Linked DNA regions of Homo sapiens. The protein of the gene in region 2 purifies or fractionates together with the protein of the main gene of each other region. This does not show direct contact. Each region holds a gene or a part of one and is shown on either strand. Other genes may lie near its edges.

What was found.
Region 1: the proteins of C1D (region 2) and MPHOSPH6 purify together in Homo sapiens (co-immunoprecipitation; 4 studies listed by BioGRID and IntAct, with this or other methods). This does not show direct contact.
Region 3: the proteins of C1D (region 2) and ZFC3H1 purify together in Homo sapiens (co-immunoprecipitation; 3 studies listed by BioGRID and IntAct, with this or other methods). This does not show direct contact.
Region 4: the proteins of C1D (region 2) and EXOSC5 purify together in Homo sapiens (affinity purification with mass spectrometry; 5 studies listed by BioGRID and IntAct, with this or other methods). This does not show direct contact.

What each region holds. Positions count from the first base shown.
Region 1 is NC_000016.10:82,160,220-82,167,254, forward strand, and holds part of MPHOSPH6 (M-phase phosphoprotein 6), read right to left. Parts: intron 4,722-7,035; exon of another isoform or gene 4,433-4,721; intron 3,976-4,432; coding exon 3,863-3,975; intron 1-3,862. UniProt on the Homo sapiens protein: RNA-binding protein that associates with the RNA exosome complex. Involved in the 3'-processing of the 7S pre-RNA to the mature 5.8S rRNA and play a role in recruiting the RNA exosome complex to pre-rRNA; this function may include C1D.
Region 2 is NC_000002.12:68,059,970-68,067,128, forward strand, and holds the start of C1D (nuclear nucleic acid-binding protein C1D), read right to left. Parts: upstream 3,036-7,159; 5' UTR 2,989-3,035; exon of another isoform or gene 2,976-2,988; intron 1-2,975. UniProt on the Homo sapiens protein: Plays a role in the recruitment of the RNA exosome complex to pre-rRNA to mediate the 3'-5' end processing of the 5.8S rRNA; this function may include MPHOSPH6.
Region 3 is NC_000012.12:71,609,075-71,611,859, forward strand, and holds the end of ZFC3H1 (zinc finger C3H1 domain-containing protein), read right to left. Parts: coding exon 2,712-2,785; intron 2,024-2,711; coding exon 1,984-2,023; intron 1,684-1,983; coding exon 1,621-1,683; intron 1,492-1,620; coding exon 1,354-1,491; 3' UTR 525-1,353; downstream 1-524. UniProt on the Homo sapiens protein: Subunit of the trimeric poly(A) tail exosome targeting (PAXT) complex, a complex that directs a subset of long and polyadenylated poly(A) RNAs for exosomal degradation. The RNA exosome is fundamental for the degradation of RNA in eukaryotic nuclei.
Region 4 is NC_000019.10:41,394,345-41,402,153, forward strand, and holds the start of EXOSC5 (exosome complex component RRP46), read right to left. Parts: upstream 3,016-7,809; 5' UTR 2,985-3,015; coding exon 2,837-2,984; intron 1-2,836. Other genes in the region: BCKDHA (2-oxoisovalerate dehydrogenase subunit alpha, mitochondrial isoform 1 precursor), read left to right, coding at 3,484-3,591. UniProt on the Homo sapiens protein: Non-catalytic component of the RNA exosome complex which has 3'->5' exoribonuclease activity and participates in a multitude of cellular RNA processing and degradation events.

The DNA.
Region 1 (7,035 bases), on a different chromosome or scaffold from region 2:
AATATTTCAAAACTTACCTCTTTTTGTATTTTAATTATCCAATTTTCATTAATGAGGATAATTTTCAGGCTAAAACACACCCACAAAATTATTTCATAAATTTCGCAGATGAGAAACTACTGCTCAGAAAAAGCTGGACTTGCCTAAAGCCACAAATACCATGGCAAAACTCCAGTTAGAAAACCCTTCTCAGTGGGTCTCACATTCCTGCACATTTTTTGAGTGAGGCACTAACTGCCCGGTTGCTCTGGACTATCTTTGCAAGGATATCTGCATAGCGAGCAGCCTTGAAAAACAGTCTTCCTCTAAAGCGAAGGGCAGATTTGCTTACTGTCCAGCATAATACAGATGCCTCTCTTGGGGCCGAAGGCAAGTCTGCTTGTGGTCCGTTATCCAAGGTTCCAGTTTTCTAAGCTCAGGAGATCTCAGCTATGATGCAAATCCACTGGGTGCACAGCATCCACCTGGGCCACTTCACGCCATCCCTCATAGGAGTTGGGGACAAAAGAGAAATGACGCAAACTTGATGCTTGTGCTGCTTGCTGTACAGTAAGTCCTTTGTTTCTGATGGTGTTCAGGAGACACTACTCCCAAAATATGGCATCTTGGCATACTGAAAATTTTACACTGGAGGAATCTGAAAAATGACGTGCAGGTAGGATTTTCTGACTGTCCCCTGAAGCAGGTCATAAAAGCATCTCACATAAGAGGTGCCCTCCCTACACTCAGAGGAAAGCAACATCCTTATCTCAGAAGAAGGGACAGAGAGAGGAATCTGAACAAAAGACTTGCTAAGTTTCTCCTGGCTTATTACTCTTCGTTCATACCCCTTGCTCCCATCATATTTCTTCACAACTTTCCACTCTTCATCAAAGCTAACATAAAAACACTCAGGTTCAACCAGTTCTTCGGTATTCATTTTCTTATGAAGGCTCCTGTGTCACCTAAAACTTTTGTGAAATAAAAGTGTATACCTTTCTCTTTGTTAATCTGTCTTTTGTTACAGGGACCCCAACTAATGAACTTCAAATGGGTGGAAGGAAAGGCTATTGTCCCTCCCCTACATCTCAGACCCAGAAGGTTCCTATCTTCCACCAGCATCAGTGAAAGTGTGGCAGGCTAACTTGTTAGTTTCAGGTCCCTATAGCTTCTGACTCCAAACAGACCACAAAACACAAGTATAAGATGTACAATAGCCAAAAATACTTCTTAAACAACTTGCTACGGCAAAGGAGGAATTAAACTGCCTATACTTGCACACTCTTTCTGGACCATATCCTTGGGGAAAAAAACAATAAGGCAATAGATAGCAAAATCTTTCATCTGGTAAATTTCACTCCTAGGAATTCACACTATATCGGGTTCCCTGGAAACAGACTCTGAGACAGACATATATGCAGAAAACTTAGCAGGCAGTGTTGTTCAGCAGATGCCCTTCTAGGAAAACAGAGAAAGAAGGATTGGGCAGAGGGAGAAGATAATGGGCAATGTGGCTACACTAAGGCCTCAGCCACATATGAGAGCTCTGGAGTCAGGAATGCCCTTCAGTTGTTCCAAGTTGAGGCACAGCAGCTAGATCATCATTCCCCTACATGGTCTAGCCACTGGCTAAAAGTGTCCCCTGTGAGGCAGTGTTAACACTGAATAGCCCTAATTATCTTCACTGAATTACAGACTGATACGGCTGACATTAAAAATGGGAAAGTCGAGACTTTCAGAGCACAGACACATGCAATCTCCAAATTCACAGAATAGTTAAGACAACACTAGCAAAAAAGGATACACAAACATAAGTGAGTAGAAAGGAATGGGTGTACTTCATATATTCAGATATAAGGAAATACACACAATGGTGACAATCACTGTGCTTTATGCCTGGTGTTATGGTGACTGTTTTACATATATTACCTCATCTACTTCTCGGAATGTACTGGACAGGTACTATCATCATACCCAATACACAAATGACACAAAACAGGTTAAGTAACTCACCCAAGGTGACAAGTAAACAACTGGCGGAGCTGGGCATCAAACCCAGGTCTGCCTGACTTCAGAGCCCATGTGCTTAATCAACCAATCCATTCCATGATCTCCCTATTTAGAGTGTTAAAAACAACAACTCAATACAACACGTATACCAAGGACATGTCATCCATTCACCCCTCCAGACCTACTTCCCGTCTTCACCTGTTTCTCTGGCCTGGGAGGCTGACTTGAACGTAATGCACGGAAGGGCTCCTTTGCTGCCAGGTACCTGGCTCCCTTGCTAGGATGACCTTGGGCTGGCCGTACCCGTGAATGGAGGTAGCAGCTCCTGTAAGGTGCTCTCTCTACACAACTTATCTGCAGATTCGGTAGCAGCTATTCCCCACCCACCCGTTGACTCTGCAAGCTCAGGTGGTAATCACTCCCACTACACATGCTAGGAGGTGCTGCACTGCCCCGAGGGGCCCCCCTATGCCCCACCCACACCTTGATAGTCTCTCCTCAGTCTGAGAGTGTCATCTTCTCCTGCCAACATCCTGAGCTGATATACACACCTATACATAAACAGGATGCTGAGTAATGGCAAAAAGGCATTATTTACCTTCCCAGAAAGAAATGTAAAGGTCATTTTCTGGGAATAATATGCTGTATTAGGGGAAAAATACTGGAAACAAGATAGAAACAGTCCTGCTCTTTAATAAACAACTGGAAGGAACACTTTGGCAAGTTTACTTAAGGCATAAAAGTAAATTATAGCTCCAGCAGCAAAGGTCCCTTCCTCCCTGTGACCCTGCCCCTGGCACTATCTTCTCCCTCCTCACCAACATCTTGCTTCCTCTGAGAAGCAGAGAAAAAAAGTACCTTCTCCCGATCCCTCCTGGTGGGACATACTTTCTATCTTTAGAGAAGGGTATCTAACCTTCAAACAATGTCCAGAGGTCAGCCAAATGAACAGGGGAATATAACATTCCAAATCAAAGCCCAAACATCAGGTACAGAATGGAAACACATAAATGTGCCTCAAGACAGTAAGCAGCATCTTCAGTCATTTGACCAAAGTTTAAGTAAAACTACCATACAACAGAGCTTACTAAGGTGAGGAAAGTATCAGGGAAAAATGAAAAATAGCTTCCAGAAGGATTCAGCTAAATTAATGGATGAAATAAATCCAACACTCCTTCATTCAAAATTGTTGATCAGGCACCAGCCAAGCTTAGGGGTGGGCCAGAAACTGTCTACCCCAGCCTTCAGCACTGACTAGCTGGGTGAAGCTGGGCAAGTTACCCTCCCTTAAGCTCAGTTCCTCAACTACAAAGTGACAGAATCATAGGAGGCAGTTCCTAAGTTTGCTACGAAGATTCAATAACTACAGATGTAAAGTGTTTAGCCCAGTTCCTGGTACACACTATAGATTCAGTAAATGTTAGCTAAAATGGATGGTATTACAAGTAGTAACAATTTAAAAGAAGAAACAAAAACTTCTGACCTGCCTTAAAATGCTCAACCTAATGAACTCTGTAACCGAAACAAAACTGGAGAGACCTGAAGTACACCCCTAATCTTTAGAACTTAAGGTGATAGAGAGAACATTACAGCTTCCCCAAAGGTCTGCTGTTACTATCAGAGATATGTGGGCTAGGTTCCTTCATTCAATGTAAAAAAGGACAAAATAGTGGCTGGGAGGGGGAGTAGTAAAAATGTATAAATCCATGTACAACTTCTATAGGTTTAATATTTTTTAGTTGTGCTACTAAATCAATAAACTGAACAGAAACAATTTCATGGGCTTTATGTCACCGGAATGATGAGTTAAATTTACCAGGAGTTTCCTTCTGAATGCCACAAGCATCATCAGTATCAATTTTAATAAACCTACTCTTTCTCTTTAAGCTCTGGCAAATCCAAGTACCAGTGCTCTTCACTAATGATTTTCTTTTCTTCTTCTTCTAGTTGTTTCTTGGTTTCTGAGTCCAGTCCCCTTTGCATAAACTGTGAAAACAAACAAAATCAATGTCAGAAACTTTTCCCATTTTAGAACTGAGGAAACCCCAAATAATTTTCTTCTTCTACTTGTTCTCCTTCATTTATCTATGGAACCCATCTCAAGATTGAGGGTTGGGGCAAGTGATCAAACGGTTTAGCTCTACCCTTCCAACTTTACACTAGACGATGAGGGCTTGTGTCAGGGCATGAGAAAATGCACAATGTATATTTCCTTCGGAAAACTTAAGGGCTAAGACACCACATTCGAAGGTCTTGTGCTCACCCACAGAGCCCACTGGCTTTGGCACCTGCTGATCTGGGGTTGAAATGCCCTTCTTATCCTCTTCCACCTGGCCAACTCCTCGCCCGTCTGACATAGGTAAAGCTACTAGACTTCTATGAGTGCCAGTAAAATCAGTGCCTCTGTCCTAAATGCTTCCATGGCTCCCTCCAATAGACTCACCACATCTGAACTTTCTGAGCATCTATCTTTTCTGGAGACCTTAAGGACTGGGTGTCTGGGTCATCTCCTTCATCTGTCCCAATATGATGACTGAAGCACAGTAAGAGCCCGATAAATGTAGGCAGAAGCAAAGGTACATCTATAAGTCTGCTCTTCGTTTTTATTTTTCCTCTGAAATGCTGCTAAACTCTTGAGCTGCTCTTATCAAATCTGCAGAAAGTTGACTCAAAATATGGCAGTAAATAACAGTCCTGCTGCCAGTCTCTCACTAGCATGAATACCTGTATTTCTTCAGGGAACAAGTGAACAAACTTAAGAGGCTAACCACAGCAACAAGATAAAATATCAACACTGGAGAAAATAAAATCAGAAAATACCCAGAAGCCTCCTAGCAGTTAGGTTTCAGCTTCCACTGGTTTCTATGTATCCCCCATTTCTTTCCCTTATTCAGGTCCGATATTTCTTTTTTATTTTTTTTTTTATTTTTTTTTTTTGAGACAGAGTCTCACTCTGTCGCCCAGGCTGGAGTGTAGTGGCACGATCTCAGCTCACTGCAACCTCTGCCTCCTAGGTTCAAGAGGTTCTCCTGCCTCAGCTTCTCGAGTAGCTGAGATTACGCGCCTGCCACCACACCCAGCTAATTTTTCTGTTTTTAGTAGAGACGGGGGTTCACCACTTTGGCCAGGCTGGTCTCAAACTCCTGACTTTGTGATCCACCCGCCTCGGCCTCCCAAAGTGCTGGGATTACAGGTGTGAGCCGCTGCGCCCGGCCCAGGTCCCATATTTCTCCTCCTTCTATTCCACCTTTTCCAAACATAAGCCTTTTTAGGCATAAGCACTTTAACAATGACTACTAAGTTAAATGAAAAAACCTTAACGTTCACGAATAAAATAGTCATGCACTGCAAAATGATGTTTGGTCGACGATGGAACCCATATATGACAGTGGTCCCATAAGATTACAATGCTGCATTTTTATTGTACCTTTTCTATATCTAGATATGTTTAGATACACAGACACCACTGTGTTACAACTGCCTACAGTATTCAGTACAGTAGCATGCTGTATAGGTTTGCAGCCTACGAACAACAGGCTGTACCATATAGCCTAAGTGTGTGGTAGGCTATACCATCCAGGTTTGCGTAGATGAACCCTATGATGCTCTCACAATGATGAAATCACCTAACAATGCATGTTTCAGAACGTATCCCTGTTGTTAAATCATGTGTTAAGTAACACATGATGGTGATAACATCAAGTGCTGAAGAGAATGTGAAGAAACTGATCACTCAAACATAGCTGGTGGGAAAGTAAATGGTACAGCCACTGTGGAAAACAGCATGGCAGTTTCTTAGCAAACTAAACATACACTTACCATATGACCCAGCAACCGTCCACGCAAAATGAGTGCGTGTAAAATGGTGAAATCTGCGTCAGCTCACTGTCAATGTCCTGGCTCTTTATCATATCCTAGTGTTGTAAAATGTTGCCGCTAGGGGAGGTGGCATGAAGGACGCACGGGATATCCCTGTACACTTTTTGCAACTTCCTGTGAATCTATCACTATTTTAAGTAAAAAGTAAAAGAAAACAAGTTTGCAGACTAGTGTTTTGCAGTCGTCATCCATTTTACCTGTGTGTACATCCTCATCCCAGGAAAGAACTGCAGTTTCTGGAATGTGCACGCTATACTTCCCAGTCCTTTTGCCTTTGCGACTTAACACGTTTCCATTTTCTGCCTGGCAAAATATTTACTCTTTTAAGCCTACAGTGTGTGTCCTTTGGTAAGACTTCCTGGTTGGCATTTGGCTTGGCTCTTCCTAGGTCTGCTCCTATAAAGAAGCACATTCTCAAGACAGCCTCATCAACACTGGAATATTGTTCACCATCGTGCTGCTTTGGTGTCTCCCAGGACTACGATTCTGAATAGACCATGACTCTTGTTCATCTTGTATCATTGGTACTTAGGCGGCACCCCTGGTACACAAAAGAGCTCACTCAGTGAAAGTTCTCTGAATGGAAATGAACCTAGACCTATCTTATTTTTCCAGATTCTCTTTCTGGGATGGTTTTCTTTAAATGCAGATGCCTCATTTCATCACTAATATTCCTCGTGGTAAAACTCATCAATACTGCCCAACTGCCCTTTTTTCTCCCATTTAGTCATGTACCTATTCTTTTGGTATACAACAGCCATATACATATGTTCTGTACACATAGAAAGGACAGAACTCCCTGTGAATATGAATCAAGCACCTCCAGACTTAGGTACAAGTTCGATTCTCCTACTCTAGAGCATTTCAGAACACATTCCAAAACTAGTGAGGACTCAGAGCAGGCATCAGCATAATACAGTCCTCAGGCTAGATGTCTGTTGTCGTCGATAAAGTTTTACTGGTACACAACCATGGTCATTCGGTCTTGAACAACACTGGCAGAGCTGAGTAGTTGTAACAGAGACTGTCTGGCTCATAAGACCAAAATATTTATCATATGGTCCTTTACAGAAAGTTTGCCAAGCCCTGTTCTGAGAGTCTAACAGTGCCAAAATCACAAATAAGCACCCTCTACAACCATTCCATACTGGAAGACCTTCCATCCAC
Region 2 (7,159 bases):
TCCACTTAGATGACTAACAGACATCAAAAACTTATCATGTCCTTAACTGAACTCCGAATCTTCCCACAAACCTGCCCCTCCCACAGTTTTCTACTTCTCAGTTAATGGCAATTCCCTTCTTCTAGTTGCTCAAGCCCCAAACTTTGACAATAACCTTATTCTTACAATTCACTTTCAATCTGTAAGCAATTCTGTTTGCTTTTCCTAGAAAATACATCTAAAATTAAACTGCTTCTCCACCTTCACTTCTTTCCAGCCAGTTAAGATGTTATCATCTCATCTGAACTACAACACCTCCGTGATTAGTCTCCTGGTTTTCACCTACCCCACCCCACAGCAAACTATTCTTAAACACAGCAGCCAGAGAAGATTCTATTAAAACGTGAGTCAGGCTGGGCGCAGTGACTGACGCCTGTAATCCCAGCACTTTAGAAGGCTGAGACAGGCGGATCACCTGAGGTCAGGGGTTCGAGACCAGCCTGGCCAACATGGTGAAACCCTAACTCTACTAAAAACACAAAAAATTAGCTGGGCATGGCGACGGGTGCCTGTAATCCCAGCTACTCCGGAGGCTGAGGCAGGAGAATCGTTGGAACCCAGGAGGCGGAGGTTGCAGTGAGCCGAGATTGTGCCACTGCACTCCAGCCTGAGCAACAGAGTGAGACTCCAAAAGAAAAGAGGGGCGAGATGGGGTGGGGCAGGGCGGGCAAGGGCAGAGCAGGGCAGGAAAGGAAACAAAAGAAAACAAAAGACAATAAAGTAAAATAAAATAAAATAAAACAAACCTAAGTCAGATCATGTCACTCCTCTCCTCCTACCTTTCCATTGGTTATTTACTCACTGGGCTATTGCTCAAGGGAAGATTCATGTCGAGGCACATTTTGAACTCCACATCACTAACATAATGTCTTGTCATGTATTAGTTAGTTAGCAACTATTTGTTTACTAACTAAAACCAATCAAAGTAACCTAAGACGTAATTTTGGAAACTCTTAATATCAGATTACAGTTTGAGCTTACAGATACTAGAAAGTCACCACATGGATCCAAACAAACATACGATAATGTACATTCCAGGGCTCTTCCCATCTCTACACCAAATAATTATACACAGTTATGAACTAAGCCAAAGAACAAATCCAACATGATTGTTTTTTGGAATTTGAGAGCCATTTGCTGTTGTTGCACCAGAATTCTATTACTGTAATGAATTACTGTAATGACTTTTTCGCACTGCATTATCTTAGGAGAAAATAACAATGAAATGTACACACAAGTTCTCAATAAATATTGCTGTCTTGGGCAAACAGTGACTCCATGTTAGTGTTGTCTGTAACTCTCCTTCAGTCCCACAGTACAATTCCTGAGTAAATATAGACTTCTTCCTTTTCTAAAAAATATATTAACATCTAAAAATAAATTTATCCCAAAGTCTAATAGGAGAGTATATAAATTACGAGGATATTGCTCAAGATTGAGATGAACAATTACATTAAATTAAATTCACTTCTATTCAAAGTTTAATTCAAAGCATTTCCAAAATTACAGCAATCAAGCAGCAAAATTACCTTCCAAAACATATGGAAGTTGATTATTACAATTATCTTATTTCTGAAATAAGAGTATATAGTGTTGTTGCACAGATTAAATAAACTAGATAAAAGCCATTAGAACGGGGCCTGGCTCAGTTAGCACTCAATACATTAGATAGTATTTTACTAAAAGTGAAAATTACCAAATACTCTAATCCAATGTGAACTATTTAGAGCCATGCTTGAAGGGTCAACTTTGGAAACAGTAGCTGAGATAATACATATGAAGAGCCATTTGAAAAGGTAAAAGCAGTTAAGAAAAAAATTACATTACTTTTGAACTGTGATACATACAACACAGCTAACTGAAGGCAGCTGTAGTATCTTTTGACTGAGAATTTTATTTTGAAAAACCGTTATTCACACTTGTCACTATCTTTCAACAAAACAATGAGTTCTATCATTTCCACCAAACACAAACATTTCTCTGTACTTCAATAGGGCTAATCTGTTGTTTTTGAATCAAAAATACAGAGTTAAATAACTAAAAGTATAACTGGATTGTTTGTAACACAAAGGATAAGTGCCTGAAGGGATGGATACCCCATTTTCCATGTGATTCTTACATATTGCATGCCTGTATCAAAACATCTCGTGTACCCCATAAATATATACACCTATGTACCCACAAAATTTTTAAATTTAATTTTTTAAAAAATCACGGTTAAGTCTTGGTTCAGTCCACCATCAGACAGTCCTAATAGGTTAATAAGTGGATAGCAAACATCTCATTGCGACAAATACATCTTTATCAAGCCAAAACTGAACTGTAGTCAGCAAACATTGAGGACATTAAAGCTATTTTGAAACAAGTTTGAGTTACACTGAACTTATCCGGGTCATCAAGAAAAACTGCTCTCTTGGATTACCCACTACAGATTTCAGCTAAAGGTCGAAATTAGCCCACTATCTCAGATGAGCTAATACTGCAGCAGCAGGCAGTCTGTGAATGTGAATGATAAACGGAGCTAACACAGTAAAGTTACTCCCCTAGACGTTCCACTTTAGCCTCTCTCCCTAAGCAAGATTGAAAACAGCTGAAAATTGTGAAGACTTCAATGTTTTTTGATTTTTGTTTTTAATTTCTTCGTCTTCCAAGATTTGAGAAGGGGGTGGTTAACAAACGAAGAAAAAGAGAGAGACCGGAGCAAAAGAGAGAAATGAGGGGCCGGGGTAAGCCAAAGCCTGCAAGCAGCCCCAAAACAAGCGGAAGTGGGGGACCTGCCAACAATGCTGCCCCAACGAAGAGCTGTGAGAGACTGCATTCCTGGAAGGCTACGCAGCCAAACTCCGATTTTCTCAGTCTGCCCAGAGGATGACAGGGGAATCCCAGGAGAGGAAAAGCGGAGTTAAACAGGAGCAGGAGAAAAACTGAAACTACACCTTAGAAAAATACCTCACGGCCTTCGACTCCAGTCTCCCGGAAAGCGGTCGGGCAACGATGACGACAATGACGCGCCGGCTCTGCCCCCGCCACGAGCGGCGCTTCCCGATGATCTCACGCTGCTCGCCACGCCCCCTGCTCCTTAACTCTTCTCCAAAGGCAAATCTCATTTTGAGTAGCTCAGACCCATGTTGTGGGAGACGATTGCGGCGGCACTCGGAACTTTTGTCTACCTTTGTACCCGGCTAACACTCACCCCAAATACAGGTTGAGTGTATTTAACCAGGAAAAAAATCTTAGTTATCGAAACTTTGTTCGGGTTTTTACTTTCCCAGAAGCTTTTTTCAGGGCCCTCATTCTTTCTACCCTTTTATTGTCTGCCTCTAGATGAGCCTCTTAGAGCAGCTTCCCAGATTATCCGTGGGGAAGAACAGGTTCTTTATTAGATTATCCGTGGGGAAGAATGGGTTCTTTATTTTTCCAATCTGTCAGTAAAAGGTACTTCTATAAAATACAGTAAAAATGAATTAGTAGAAAAATGGGGAAAATATGTGCAAAATACAAGCCCAAATTTTTTATTAGTTTCAAATAAATGTAAAATTGCATTTCAATGTATGCAATCAGAACAAACATAATAGAAAATAAAGGCATTAACAGAAACTGTACATACTGTTCATTGAAAGTGTAGTATAAGCGATTGAGCATTGTCTTAACATTTGTAACTTGTCATTCCACGGCTGTAATTTGATAAAAAGTTATGCATGAAACAGTTGTCCGTATATTAAATGCATGTAAAAGCATTTTGAACAAGCACCATGTATGTAATATTTAAAGTTTTGGGGGAGGTTCCAAAGTGGCCGAATAGGAACAGCTCCAGTCTACAGCTCCCAGCATGAGCAACGCAGAAGATGGGTGATTTCTGCATTTCCAACTGAGGTACCGGGTTCATCTCACTGGGGCTTCTCAGACACTGGGTGCAGCCCACAGAGCAGGGCGAGGCATGACCTCACCCGGGAAGCACAAGGGATCAGGGAATTCCCTTTCTTAGCAAAGGGAAGCCATGATAGACGGTACCTGGAAAATTGGGACACTCCCATCCTAATACTGTGCTTTTCCAACGGTCTTAGCAAACGGCACACCAGAAGATTATATCCCGTGACTGGCTCAGAGGGTCCCACGCCCACGGAGCCTGGCTCACTGCTACCACAGCAGTCTGAGATCAAACTGCAAGGCAGCAGCGAGGCTGGGGGAGGGGCGTCTGCCATTGCTGAGGCTTAAGTAGATAAACAAAGTGGCCAGGAAGCTTGAACTGGGTGGAGCCCATCGCAGCTCAAGGAGGCCTGCCTGCCTCTGTAGACCCCACCTCTGGGGGCAAGGCATAGCTGAACAAAAGGCAGCAGAAAGTTCTGCAGACTTAAATGTCCGTCTGACAGCTTTGAAGAGAGTAGTGCTTCTCCCAGCACGGAGTTTGAGATCTGAGAACGGACAGACTGTCTCCTCAAGTGGGTCCCTGACCCCCGAGTAGCCTAACTGGGAGACACCTCCCAGCAGGGGCCAACTGACACCTCATACAGCTGGGTGCCCCTCTGAGATGAAGCTTCCAGAGGAAGGATCAGGCAGCAATATTTGCCATTCTGCAATATTTGCTGTTCTGCAGCCTCCGATGGTGACACCCAGGCAAACAGGGTCTAGAGTGGACCTTCAGCAAACTCCAACAGACCTGCAGCTGAGGGTCCTGACTGTTAGAAGGAAAACTAACAAAAAGAAAAGACATCCACACCAAAAACCCATCTGTACGTCACCATCATCAAAGACCAAAGGTAGATAAAACCACAAAGATGGGGATAAATCAGAGCAGAAAAGCCGAAAATTCTAAAAATCAGAGCGCCTCTTCTCCTCCAAAGGAATGCAGCTCCTCACCAGCAATGGAACAAACCTGGACAGAGAATGACTTTGACAAATTGAGAGAAGAAAGCTTCAGACGACTGGTAATAACAAACTTCTCCGAGCTAAAGGAGGATGTTTGAACCCATTGCAAAGAAGCTAAAAACCTTGAAAAAAGATTAGACGAATGGCTAACTAGAATAAACAGTGTAGAGAAGTCCTTAAATGACTGATGGAACTGAAAATCGTGGCACGAGAAGAACGTGACGCATGCACAAGCTTCAGTAGCCGATTTGATCAAGTGGAAGAAAGAGTATCAGTGATTGAAGATCAAATGAATGAAATGAAGCAAGAAGAGAAGTTTAGAGAAAAAAGAGTAAAAAGAAATGAACAAAGCCTCCAAGAAATATGAGACTTTGTGAAAAGACCAAATCTGCATCTGAATTGTGTACCTGAAAGTGACTGGGAGAATGGAACCAAGTTGGAAAACACTCTTCAGGATATCATCCAGGAGAACTTCCCCAACCTAGTGAAGCTGGCCAACATGCAAATTCAGGAAATACAGAGAACACCACAAAGATACTCGTCGAGAAGAGCAACTCCAAGACACATAATTGTCAGATTCACCAAAGTTGAAATGAAGGAAAAAATGTTAAGGGCAGCCAGAAAGGTCAGGTTACCCACAAAGGGAAGCCCATCATAGTAACAGCTGATCTCTCGGCAGAAACTCTACAAGCCAGAAGAGAGTGGGGGCCAATATTCAACATTCTTAAAGAAAAGAATTTTCAACCCAGAATATCATATCCAGCCAAACTAAGCTTCATAAGTGAAGGAGAAATAAAATCCTTTACAGACAAATATACTGAGAGATTTTGTCACCACCAGGCCTGCCTTACAAGAACTCCTGAAGGAAGCACTAAAGATGGAAAGGAACAACTGGTACCAGCCACTGCAAAAACATGCCAATTGTAAAGGCCATCAATGCTAGGAAGAAACTGCATCAACTAATGAGCGAAATAACCAGCTAACATCATAATGACAGGATCAAATTCACACATAACAATATTAACCTGAAATGTAAATGGGCTAAATGCTCCAATTAAAAGACATAGACTGGCAGATTGGATAAAGAGTCAAGACCCATCAGTGTGCTGTATTCAGGAGACCCAACTCACATTCAGAGACACACATAGGCTAAAATAAAGGGCTGGAGGACGATCTACCAAGCAAATGGAAAACAAAAAAAAGCAGGAGTTGCAATCCTAATCTCTGATAAACCAGACTTTAAACCAACAAAGATCAAAAGAGACAAAGAAGGCCATTACATAATGGTAAATGGATCAATTCAATAGGAAGAGCTAACTATACTACCTATACATGCACCCAATACAGGAGCACCCAGATTCATAAAGCAAGCCCTTAGAGACCTATAAAGAGACTTAGACTCCCACACAATAATAATGGGAGACTTTAACACCCCACTGTCAATATTAGACAGATCAACGAGACAGAAAGTTAACAAGGATATCCAGGAATTGAACTCAGCTCTGCACCAAGCAGACCTAGTAGACATCTACAGAAATCTCCACCCCAAATTAACAGAATATACATTCTTCTCAGCACCACATCACACTTATTCCAAAATTGACCACATATTTAGAAGTAAAGTACTCCTCAGCAAATGTAAAAGAACAGAAATTATAACAAACTGTCTCTCAGGCCACAGTGCAATCAAACTAGAACTCAGGATTAAGAGACTCACTCAAAACCGCTTAACTACATGGAAACAGAACAACCTGCTCCTGAATGACTACTGGGTACATAACAAAATGAAGGCAGAAATAAAGATGTTGTTTGAAACCAATGAGAACAAAGACACAACATACCAGAATCTCTGGGACACATTTAAAGCAGTGTGTAGAGGGAAATTTATAGCACTAAATGCCCACAAGAGAAAGCAGGAAAGATCTAAAATTGACACCCTAACATCACAATTAAAAGAACTAGAGAAGCAAGAGCAAACACATTCAAAAGCTAGCAGAAGGCAAGAAATAACTAAGATCAGAGCAGAACTGAAGGAGATAGAGAAACAAAAAGCCCTTCAAAAAATCAATGAATCCAGGAGCTGGTTTTTGAAAAGATCAACCAAATTGATAGGCCACTAGCAAGACTAATAAAGAAGAGAGAATAATCAAATAGACACAGTAAAAAATGATAAAGGGGATATCACCACCGATCCCACAGAAATACAAACTACCATCAGAGAATACTATAAACACCTCTACACAAATAAACTAGA
Region 3 (2,785 bases), on a different chromosome or scaffold from region 2:
TGGTTCTATTTCTAGTGAGCATTATACAAATGTAAACATGTACAAGTTTCCTAGTATTTCATGGGGTTGCTGCTCTGCCTCTAACAGTTCAAGCACATGTAGTTCTAAGATCAGATTTGTGCCAGTGTGCGTTGTGTCATTAACATTTTTCCTGCCAAGGTTAAAACAACCAAATATAAACTGAAAACAAAATAAAAAGCAAGGTCTCCTTTGCATTCAATCACACTGATATTCAACATAAGATGGCATGTCACTAGGCAAATCATTCAAACTACGGTTGGGAGGCACTTTCTAAACACTGAGAATTTGAGAACAAGGAATTTAATGGTAGTGCAAACCTCTCTGTTCACTGTCCTCACAACAGTATCCATCTTCTCATGAATTAAAAAGTCATTAATTTTTTTTTTTTTAATGGGAAAGCAGTTTCAAGATAAAAAAGTATTGCTATAAGTTATGGTGAATATCCGTATCTCCGACTTCAACCCTTTCCCACCAGTGTGAAAAGTGAATAAAGACAGCAAGAGTTTTTAGAAAGTTAACTTATATTAAAAAAGTATATAAACAATTTCAATACTACAAAGTAGTATTTCAATACAAAGCAGTTCAAATATTAACTGTTCTTTAAACTGTTAAACTTTATTATAAATTAAAATTTCTTTACAAAAAAATTGCACATAATATTTGACCACTCTTAGGTTCTGATGCACTGGCATTTGCAATAGTTTCTTTAATCTTCAAGTTAAACAGTCTCGGCAAGGAGTCCAGAACGTAGAAAGGGTAATAAACAACCCTGATAGAGCATTCAAGTGCAACTAGCAGACTTGTGGCCATGGCAGTTACACTTTCCTTAAGATGGACTGCTATAGTTTTAAATCCTGAAATGAAGAATCTCAAAAAAATTTAAAAAGGAAAAACTAAAAGGGACTGCCTGCTTTTTTTACTGTAAACACAGCCCTGGATATTAAATCCCAAACAGGAATCTCTCAGGCATCAGAGAGTGTCAAGTGAGTCAGGAATAACACAAAATAAAGGAATGGGGGAGAAAATAAAAAAAAACAAAGCAAAATTAAAATAAATGTCAGTCACTTTGAGGAACTATACTTACGTATATGATGTTATGAGAATCTGGCAGGGCCTAGAAGCAGGCCAAACAGGAAGTTCATTTATCCAACCGAAGAGGATCATGTTCATTGCTTCCGGTTTTGAGGACAGGATATTGTAGGGAACTTGATATGATCAATAACGCTTGTCTGCCTTACACAGACCTTAGCCAGGGATCAGCCTAATCTTGAAGAATCATTCAAATAATTTTGGCAATTATTATAAGGACTTAGAACTGACTGCACCCAGTGTTCAGTGATTCTTGCTTTCTGTTTTGTTACTGTTTAAATTTAAGAGCTCATTTAGGCTGACTCCAATCTCTTGGCACTTGGAAACTAGTTTTCTCAGGTTATCAGTTTTACCTCCTTCTGATGCTTCAAACAAGAGTTGCTGTAAAAGACAGGGAAGCATAGAAGTAAGACTTAGCTAGAGTTTGAGCATTACCACATCAATGGATATGGCACATGCAGAAAATTTACAGGAAAACATCGAGATAAAATAAAAGATAAAAAGCATTACATCTTTCCACAGTGATGCACAAAGAGGTAACTTCTGTAAGGCTCTCTGATATAAACGGTGGACCTGTAAGATAGATATACACACAATTCCATCAGAAAATATAATGAAAAACACCTTCATAATTCCATCTGTTTAAAGAATGGTAATTCACAATAACATCTGAGACAAAATGGTTATGCTGAGTTTTGGAGTTTCCGAATATTTGGTACTCTTAAAATGTTAACTACTTTTGTTTCCCCACTTGGTTCTTAGTGTGCATGAAATGTTAACTTCTGTGCTTTAATTCTTTTAAATTGAGAAGTCAACAAAAGAGACAGAAAAACTTTTTAAAAGTGACCCATCTGAGATTCAACCATGGCTTACCTCTCTTTGTCCCTTTAGAACAATCTCAGCAGCAATGGCTCTAAGAGAAAAAAAAAAAAAAAGAAATATAGAAAAAGGAAAAGAAAAATTTATATATCTTTGAACAAAATGAAACACCACCACTGGCAGAATACTGACTGTGGGAATCTGAGTACAAAACTTCCTGAAAGTTAACAGGCTAAACTTCCAAGGAGGAAAACCTATAGTGAAAAGAAAAATTCAACAATTTTTATCAACTTTACAAGAAAAAAGCAGACCAGTGTTTTGAACATAAATAACGTTCACAGGAGAAAAAAAAAACAACAACAACAACAAAAAAAAAACACCTCATAATTACTAGTCAAAAATACCTAGCACTAACACCTTTAAAAGAAAGAAGAAATCAGACTACAACAGGTGACACACCACCATTTCAAGAGGTGGTCTTAAAATGTCTGTAGCAGATTTGTTTGATAACAGTACTGTCACCTAAATGTTGTCCTTCAAAGAAAATTAAAAGTCTACGCTTTTTGCTTTTAGAGGCTATTCAATGAGTACTCACTCTCATTAAACCTCAGTAAATGCTAAAAACAAATCTAAATTAAGAATAGCAATCTGTCCAGGAAAAAAAAAAAAAAAAATATATATATATATATATATATAGATGTCATTTCAGATTTACCTGTCTGGAGCAAACCTTATAAATAAAAGCAATAGCTATAAAAACATGTACATGATTGTTGCATTACATTTTCCAGGTGGCCAGGCATGTTGGGATATTATATGTAAACATCTTGGCTTGAAGTTTCAGAATCTGAACATT
Region 4 (7,809 bases), on a different chromosome or scaffold from region 2:
TCCAGCCTGGACAATAACAGCAAGGCTTAGTCTCAATAAAAAAAAAAAAATACATTTTAGGCCAGGCATGGTGGCTCACACCTGTAATCCCAGCACTATGGAGGCCCAGGTGGGAGGACTGCTTGAGGCCAGGAGTTTGAGACCAGCCTGAGCAGCATAGGAAGACTCCTGTCTCTATTTTCTTTTTTGGGACAGAGTTTCCCTCTGTCACCCAGGAGGCTGGAGTGCAGTGGCGCAATCTCAGTTCACTGCAACCTCCGCCTCCCAGGCTCAAGTGATTCTTGTACCTCAACCTCCAGAGTAGCTGAGATTACAGGTGCGTGCTACCACATCCGACTAATTTTTGTATTTTTAGTAGAGATGGGTTTTCACCATGTTGGCCAATCTGGTCTCAGAACTCCTGACCTCAACCAAGCGAGGTGGCTCACGCCTGTAATCCCAGCACTGTGGGAGGCTGAGGCAGGTGGATCACAGGGTCAGGAGTTCAAGATCAGCCTGGCCAACATGGTGAAACCCCGTCTCTACTAAAAACCACAAAAATTAGCCGGGCGCGGTGGCACGCACCTGTGGTCCCAGCTACTCAGGAGGCTGAGGCAGAAGAATTGCTTGAACCCGGGAGGTGGAGGGTGCAGTGAGCCACGATCACTTCACTGCACTCCAGCCTGGGCGACAGGGCGAGACTCCATCTCAAAAAAAAAAAAAGAAAAAAAAAAAAAGAACTCCTGACCTCAGAGGCCTCCCAAAGTGCTGGGATTACCGCTGTGAGCAACTGCACCCGGCCTCTTCTTAATTCTTACGTTCGAAGAAACTTTAGGTATCTCAATTCAGCATAAGCGCTAAGCCTGAGGGAGGGCCTGGGAAGGTCCTTGGTTAAGGCCGTATTTCCTGGGAAGCCCAATTTGCCCTTACACGGAAGGTATGCTTAGTTCCAGGAGAAACTGCCCTGAGGACTGGAGAAGTTACCAAAACAGAACTTGCCTCTGGCTCCAGATGAACTGCCTGTGTTTTGCCCGAGCACAAGAGTCTCTCCCCTCTCACCTTCTTGAAGACGTGGCTCCAGCAATTCTCTCCCCTGTTGACCCCACAACAATCTACAACTCCTGCCCCACTTATCTGATCCTCTTACAGCAGAACTCCTGAACAGCTGCCTCTTCTTCCTTTTCTGTGACCCCACCACTCCATTGCGGCAGCTCAACATCGTCACCACTGACCTCCAAATGATCAACCCTCCCATGACCCGGCTGTCAGTAAGGCTGAAACAGCTGGTCAGCCCTCACATCTCAGACATGCTCTTTTCTTGGCCCCAGGTCACCACCATCTCCTGGTTTCCCCCTAACTCTCTGGGCGTTCCTTCTGAGTCTCCTTTGCTAGCTTGTCACATGTCTCTGACTGCTCAAGTTGGAAGGCCTAGGGCTTGGTCCTGGGACCTCTTCTCTTTTCCATCTACACTCACTTCGTTCAGGCAATAGCCTGAAATACCATCTATATAGCCAGAGAGTTCCAAATTGCCTATGTCCAGCTTGGGTCTCTCTTCTGATTTCCAGACTTGTACAGATCTGGGCAGAAACCTTAGTTATGCCTGAATCTTTTTCCTCGCACTCAAACCAAACTATACGTAAGTTTTGTCCGTATTACTTTCAAACTACATCCAGAATCTCATCACCTCCACTACTCCTGCTCTGGCTGGAGCCACCATCACCTCCCTGTTTTCCCCCATACTCCCCACAATCAACACAGCAGCCAAATTTTGTTAAAATGTATTGGGGCTGGGCGTGGTGGCTCATACCTGTATGAGCACTTTGGGAGGAGGATTGCTTGAGCCCAGGAGTTCAAGACCAACCTGGGTGACATCGTGAGACGCTGTCTCAATTTTTTTTTTTTTTGAGACAGAGTCTTGCTTTGTCGCTCACGCTGGAGTACAATGGCACGATCTCGGCCCACTGCAACTTCTGCCTCCCAGGTTCAAGTGATTGTCCTGCCTCAGCCTCCCGAGTAGCTGGGATTACAGGCGCCCGCCACCATGCCTGGCTAGTTTTTGTATTTTTAGTAGAGACAGGGTTTCGCCATGTTGGCCAGGCTGGTCTCGAACTCCTGACCTCAGGTGAGCCACAGGTCTTGGCCTCCCAAAGTGTGGGGATTACAGGCGTGAGCCACCGCCCCCGGCCTCCCGTCTCAAACGTTAAAGAGAAATATTCTTGGAGTTAATCTACTTCTGAGAGTTATTTAGCTAGGAAAAGGGGATATTTGCTCTATAGGTAAGACTTGCCCTAATCTTTTTTTTTTTTTTTTTTTTGACTTGCCCTAATCTTAGGGATATTTACTTGTGTGGAGAGATGCAGTGAGGTAGCGGTGGGGATGTATTTCTCAACCCAGCGCAATGACATTATCTTCAATTTGAGGAGTATTTACGTGGGTGAAAGATCCGCCACAGTCCACAGTATGCAAATAGACAGGTTTGCTTCAGTCCGGGATGCAAGGACCTAGAGGGTGTGTGTGTGGGGGGTGGGGGTGGGAGGGTGGAGGAGGAATCGAGTTAAGGGGGATATTTACCCTGGCGAGGTGATTTTCCCTATTCTGAAATATCAATTCTTGGGCGGACAGTCTGCCCCTCCTCTCATTCTCAGAGATAGTTACAAAGATGGAACTATCTTCTCCTTTCTAGTCGTGAGGGAGAGATGTGTGTATCCCTGCGTATTTAGTAGTATTCAATCGGACAAGAAATCATGCATCAACGCAGGAGTGACATTTACCAGCTGGTATCGTGAGGAGGTGGGCACTCGGTTGCACAGTACACGGTAGTCCCTCTCCAAAAGAAAGACCTGGGTGAAGTTCTTACCTTGCAGGAAGGAAGCAGAGCCATCTGGCCGCGACAGCAGGTTCTGTTCGCAGGCAAAGTGCCGGAGGCTGCAGCCAGGACCCCGAGGGCTGGACCCTGTTCCATTTTCAGCACGGATTTTGGCGTCAGTATGCGTCTCCTCCTCCATCGCGCCGAGCCCACGTGCGGCTGCAGTTGTCACTTCCGCCTGGCAGCGCGCGCCGCAAACAGGCTGCGTAACCAGTGCGCACGCGCCGGGCTGGGCCATCCTCCTGGGCGTCCGCACGTGGCTTAGCGTTTACCAACAATCTGGCTCCGCCCAGTCCCACCTCCTAACTCTGGCAACGCCATTGGACATTTGGGAACAGAAGGCAGGCCTTGGCATTGATCCGCTTTACTCTGGGCCCCCGGGCCCTAAATCCCTGAGGCCCTGGTCAGGTTGCCCTCTTCTTTGCCTGTTACAGGAGTAACTACAATGAGGCGATTGGAGAAAATTTTGGGTAGATAGATTTTTTTTTCTCCAAATCTCTGTGCATTCTATCTACCACAGAACGGGAAGAAGATGGTTTTCTTGTCAGATGGTGCTGGAGTTTGCGTCAGGCACATAAAGAGGCAGCCCCGAATCTAGCCTACGTGAGTGCCGGACCGCTGAGTGGTTGTTAGCCAAGATGGCGGTAGCGATCGCTGCAGCGAGGGTCTGGCGGCTAAACCGTGGTTTGAGCCAGGCTGCCCTCCTGCTGCTGCGGCAGCCTGGGGCTCGGGGACTGGCTAGATCTGTGAGTACCTGGGCCCCAGGCGGTTTTCCCAAAGGGGATTAGGGATGTAAAGGCTATCTTCAGAGTGTGGGGTCCCTGAAGGATATGAAGGAAGGGCTGTCACAAAAGGGAAAAAGAGTGGGAGACTCCTTGGAGAAGACACCGAAGGGAAGATCTGCCACTTCCTTAGGAGACGAAAAGAACTTCCACTTCTTTAGGAGAGGAAAAAACCCGTTTGCAACTTCTTTGTGGGCCCTGAGGGAGACGACTTGAAGAGAGAGATGGGGGTTCCTTATTAGCTGCCACTGGTATTCAGGGGAGGCTCCTTGGAGGAACAGGGGAAGACCGCAAGACCTTCTCCCTCAGGGTTTGGAGAATGAAACTGACTTTGTAAGGGAGGGACTTTCTTCTGGGCAAAGATCCCTCTTCAAGAAGAAGAAAGAAGAGAACAGGTCCCTGTCACAGGCTGCATAGGGCCTTGTATTTCTTTGCTCCTTTGCCACAATTCTGATTTTAAAATGAATTGTGTAAAAAATTTGTTTGATTCCTGTGTCTCTTGATCGAATATCAAGACAGAGAATTCGTGTGTTCTGGACACTGTACAGAGGAGACGATTAATATTTGTTGAATTAATGAGGGGAAAAAAGGAGGGAGAGAGGTACAGACAGGGCACTTTGCCCACATTTCTTAGAAACACTTGAGAAGGCTTTGTTTCTTGTCAAAAGGGTCACAATCCCTTCAGGTGGATGCTGCTAAGGGCAAGATTACACTGCAAAAAACCTAGGTGGAAGCCTATCTTTAGACGGGGAGAGGCAATGGGTTGCAGAAGAGCTTTGAACTACAGTTGACAGATAGGAGAGTAGTGGTTACATGGGTGGATGCATGTCCTTGCTCTGCCGCTTTCCACTTGTGTAGCCTTGGCCAACGGACTGCACTTCTCTGGATCTATGGAGCTAATTTTCCTCTCTAAAATATTAACAGTGGCCACCTCATAGGGCTGTGAAAAATCAATATGTAAAATGCTAAGGACTGGACCTGGCACATCCTAAGGGCAATAGGAATGTTGATAGTGAGGGTGGAGGGAAGGGACAGAAACTAACCTTGGAGATGGGGAGAAGAAAGGGGTGACCTTGGGAAGGCCTGGATTGGTGAGGCCCTGGGGAAAAAAATCTGAAAAGATATTGTGAGGTTGAGTCTGATCCTCTGATCCCCAATCCATAAGGAGGGGAAGATGGAATCTGTAGAAAGAAGCTCTGGGTAGGGGAACAAACGGGAGGAGGGTGAAGAAGATGGGCCAGGAGTAGGACGTAGTAGGTATCTAGGAACGGAGTCACTTGAAACAGGTAAATACAGAAGGGCTGCAGGAGCAAGGTGTGGGTAGGGCAGTCTCTTGCCTTTGGGCTGGAGACCTTTTCACTTTTTTTTTTTTTTTTTTTTTTGAGCAGTTCATATCCTCCACAGCTGATCTCAGTCCCAGGGGCCCATTGGCTGGGCAAGTGGGGCAGGAGGTGGGCAGGACTGGGGCAGGCTAGGGAAAGGTCATTTATGGCTGATTAAATCTTTCTCTCCTGTCTCAATCTCTTGATTACCTTTCCTCTTGCTTCCCCTACTTCATTTTTGGTGGGGAGTGGGGAGGGAAGAAGTCCCTACTTTTTATTTATATATATTTAAATTTGTATTATCTTAAGAGTTATTGTTTTTTCCCCTTTATTTCTCCCACCTGTTCTTTCTCTCTTCTTCTTTCTTTCCTCTCCTTCTCCTCTCCTCTCCTCCCCTCTCCTTTTTCTTTTCTTTTCTTTTTCCCTTTCCTTTCCTTTCCTTTTCTCTTCTCTTTTCTCTCTCTCTTTCTTTCTGTACCTCTCTTTCCTTTTTCTTTTTTTTTCTTTTTTGAGACAGAGTTTCACTCTCTCGCCTAGGCTGGAGTGCAGCAGCATGATCTTGACTTACTGCAATCTCTGCCTGCCGAGTTCAAGCAATTCTCCTGCCTCAGCCTCCCTAGTAGCTGGGATTACAGGCATGCACTATCACGCCTGGCTAATTTTTGTATTTTTGGTAGGGACGAGGTTTCACCATGTTGTCCAGGCTGGTCTCGAACTTCTGGCCTCAAGTTCCGCCTGTCTTGGCCTCCAAAAGCATGAGCCACTGCGCCTAGCCTTTTCTTTTTTTGAGACAAGGTCTCACTCTGTCACCCAGGCTGGAGTGAGTGCAGTGGTGTGATCATGGCTCACTGCAGCCTCAACCTCCTGGGCTCAAGCAATCCCCCCACCTCCACCTCCTAAGTAGCTGGGACCACAGGCACGTGCTACTACGCCTGGCTAATTTTTAATTTTTTTTTTTTTTTTTGAGACGGAGTCTTGCTCTGTCACCCAAGCTGGAGTGCAGTGGCACGATCTCGGCTCACTGCAACCTCCACTTCCCAGGTTCAAGTGATTCTCCTGCCTCAGCCTCCCAAATAGCTGGGACTACTGGCGTGCGCCACCATACCCAGTTAATTTTTGTATTTTTAGTAGAGATGGGGTTTCACCATGTTGACCAGGCTGGTCTTGAACTCCTGATCTAAGGTGATCTGCCCGCCTCGGCCTCCCAAAGTGCTGGGATTACAGGCATAAGCCACTGTGCCTGGCTGCGCCTGGCTAATTTTTAAATCTTTGTAGAGATGGGGTTTTGCCATGTTTTCCAGGCTGGTCTTGAACTCCTGGACTCAAGCGATCTTCCTGCCTCAGCCTCCCAAAGTGCAGGATGACAAGCGTGAGCCACCTTGCCTGGCCATATTATTAAATTATCATGAGTTTAAGTTTAAGTAGCCACAAGTGGGCTGGGTGCGGTGGCTCATGCCTGTAATCCCAGCATTTTGAGAGGCCAAGGTGGGCGGGTTGCCTGAGGCCAGGAGTTCAAGACCAGCCTGGCCAACATGGTGAAACCCCATCTCTACTAAAAATACAAAAAAATTAGCTGGGCGTAATGGCGTGTGCCTGTAGTCCCAGCTACTTGGGAGGCTGAGGCAGAAGAATCGCTTGAACCTGGGAGGCGGAGATTGCAGTGAGCCGAGATCGCACCACTATACCCCAGCCTAGGTGACAGAGCAGCCCTCTGTCTCAAAATAAGATAGCCACAAGTGGTTGGTGGCTGCCACATTAGATGGTGCAGGGTTTTTGTTTTGTTTTGTTTTTTGTTTTTTCGAGGTGGAGTTTTGCTCTCATTGCCTAGGCTGGAGTGCAATGGCATGATCTTGGCTCACCACAACCTCCTCTTCCTGGGTTCAAGCGATTCTCCTGCCTCAGCCTCCCGAGTAGCTGGGATTACAGGCATGCACCACCATGCCTGGCTAATTTTGTATTTTTAGTAGAGACAGGGTTTCTCCATGTTGATCAGGCTGGTCTTGAACTCCCGACCTCAGGCGACCCACCCACCTCGGCCTCCCAGAGTGCTGGGATTACAGGTGTGAGCCACCATGCCTGGCTAAGATGATGCAGTTTTATCCAGGTGGAGATGAAGAAATAGTCAGGGAAAGGTTGAGAGGCTGCATATTGTAGACAGATTGGATTACTGGGTTCACTGGGGAAGATTGGATTAGAAGGAGGAGTGGGGCTGCTTTACTTGTCCCCGACTTCTTGCCCCTGCTCTGCCCACTCCTTCATTGAATACCCTGCTGCCCTGCAGATGTGTTTGCCTGATTTTCACCTCCCTTCCTGTCTCTGTTATCATAGCAGACGTTTTAGTGCTCAGGGAAAGGAGGAGGAAGGAAACTCAGATTGTCAAGGAATTGTGAGTCAGTTTCTCAGCCACTACCCCAGGCCTGGGCTTGGCTAAGTCATTTCACCTCTCTGACCCTAGCTAGTGGGGTGAATAGAGTCCCTACCCTGTTGGAAGTCAGGAAGCCCCTGGAGCTCGCTCTGTGCTAATTATCGGTGACTATTTCTGTGACCCAGCTCTTCAGGGGCAGCCTGTCTGGGGGTTCCAGTGCCCTGTGCAGTATCTCCAAGTGGTAGGTACTCAGTGTATGTATTAGTCCGTTTTCAGGCTGCTAATAAAAACACACCCAAGACTGGGTAATTTATAAAGAAAAAGAGGCTTAATGGACTCACAGTTCCACATGGCTGGGGAAGCCTCACAAACATGGCGGAAGGCAAATGAGGAGCAAAGTCACATCTTACATGGTGGCAGGCAGACAGAGTGCTTGCAGGGGAACTCCCCTTTATAAAACCATCAGATCTCGTGAGACTTATTCAGTATAATGAG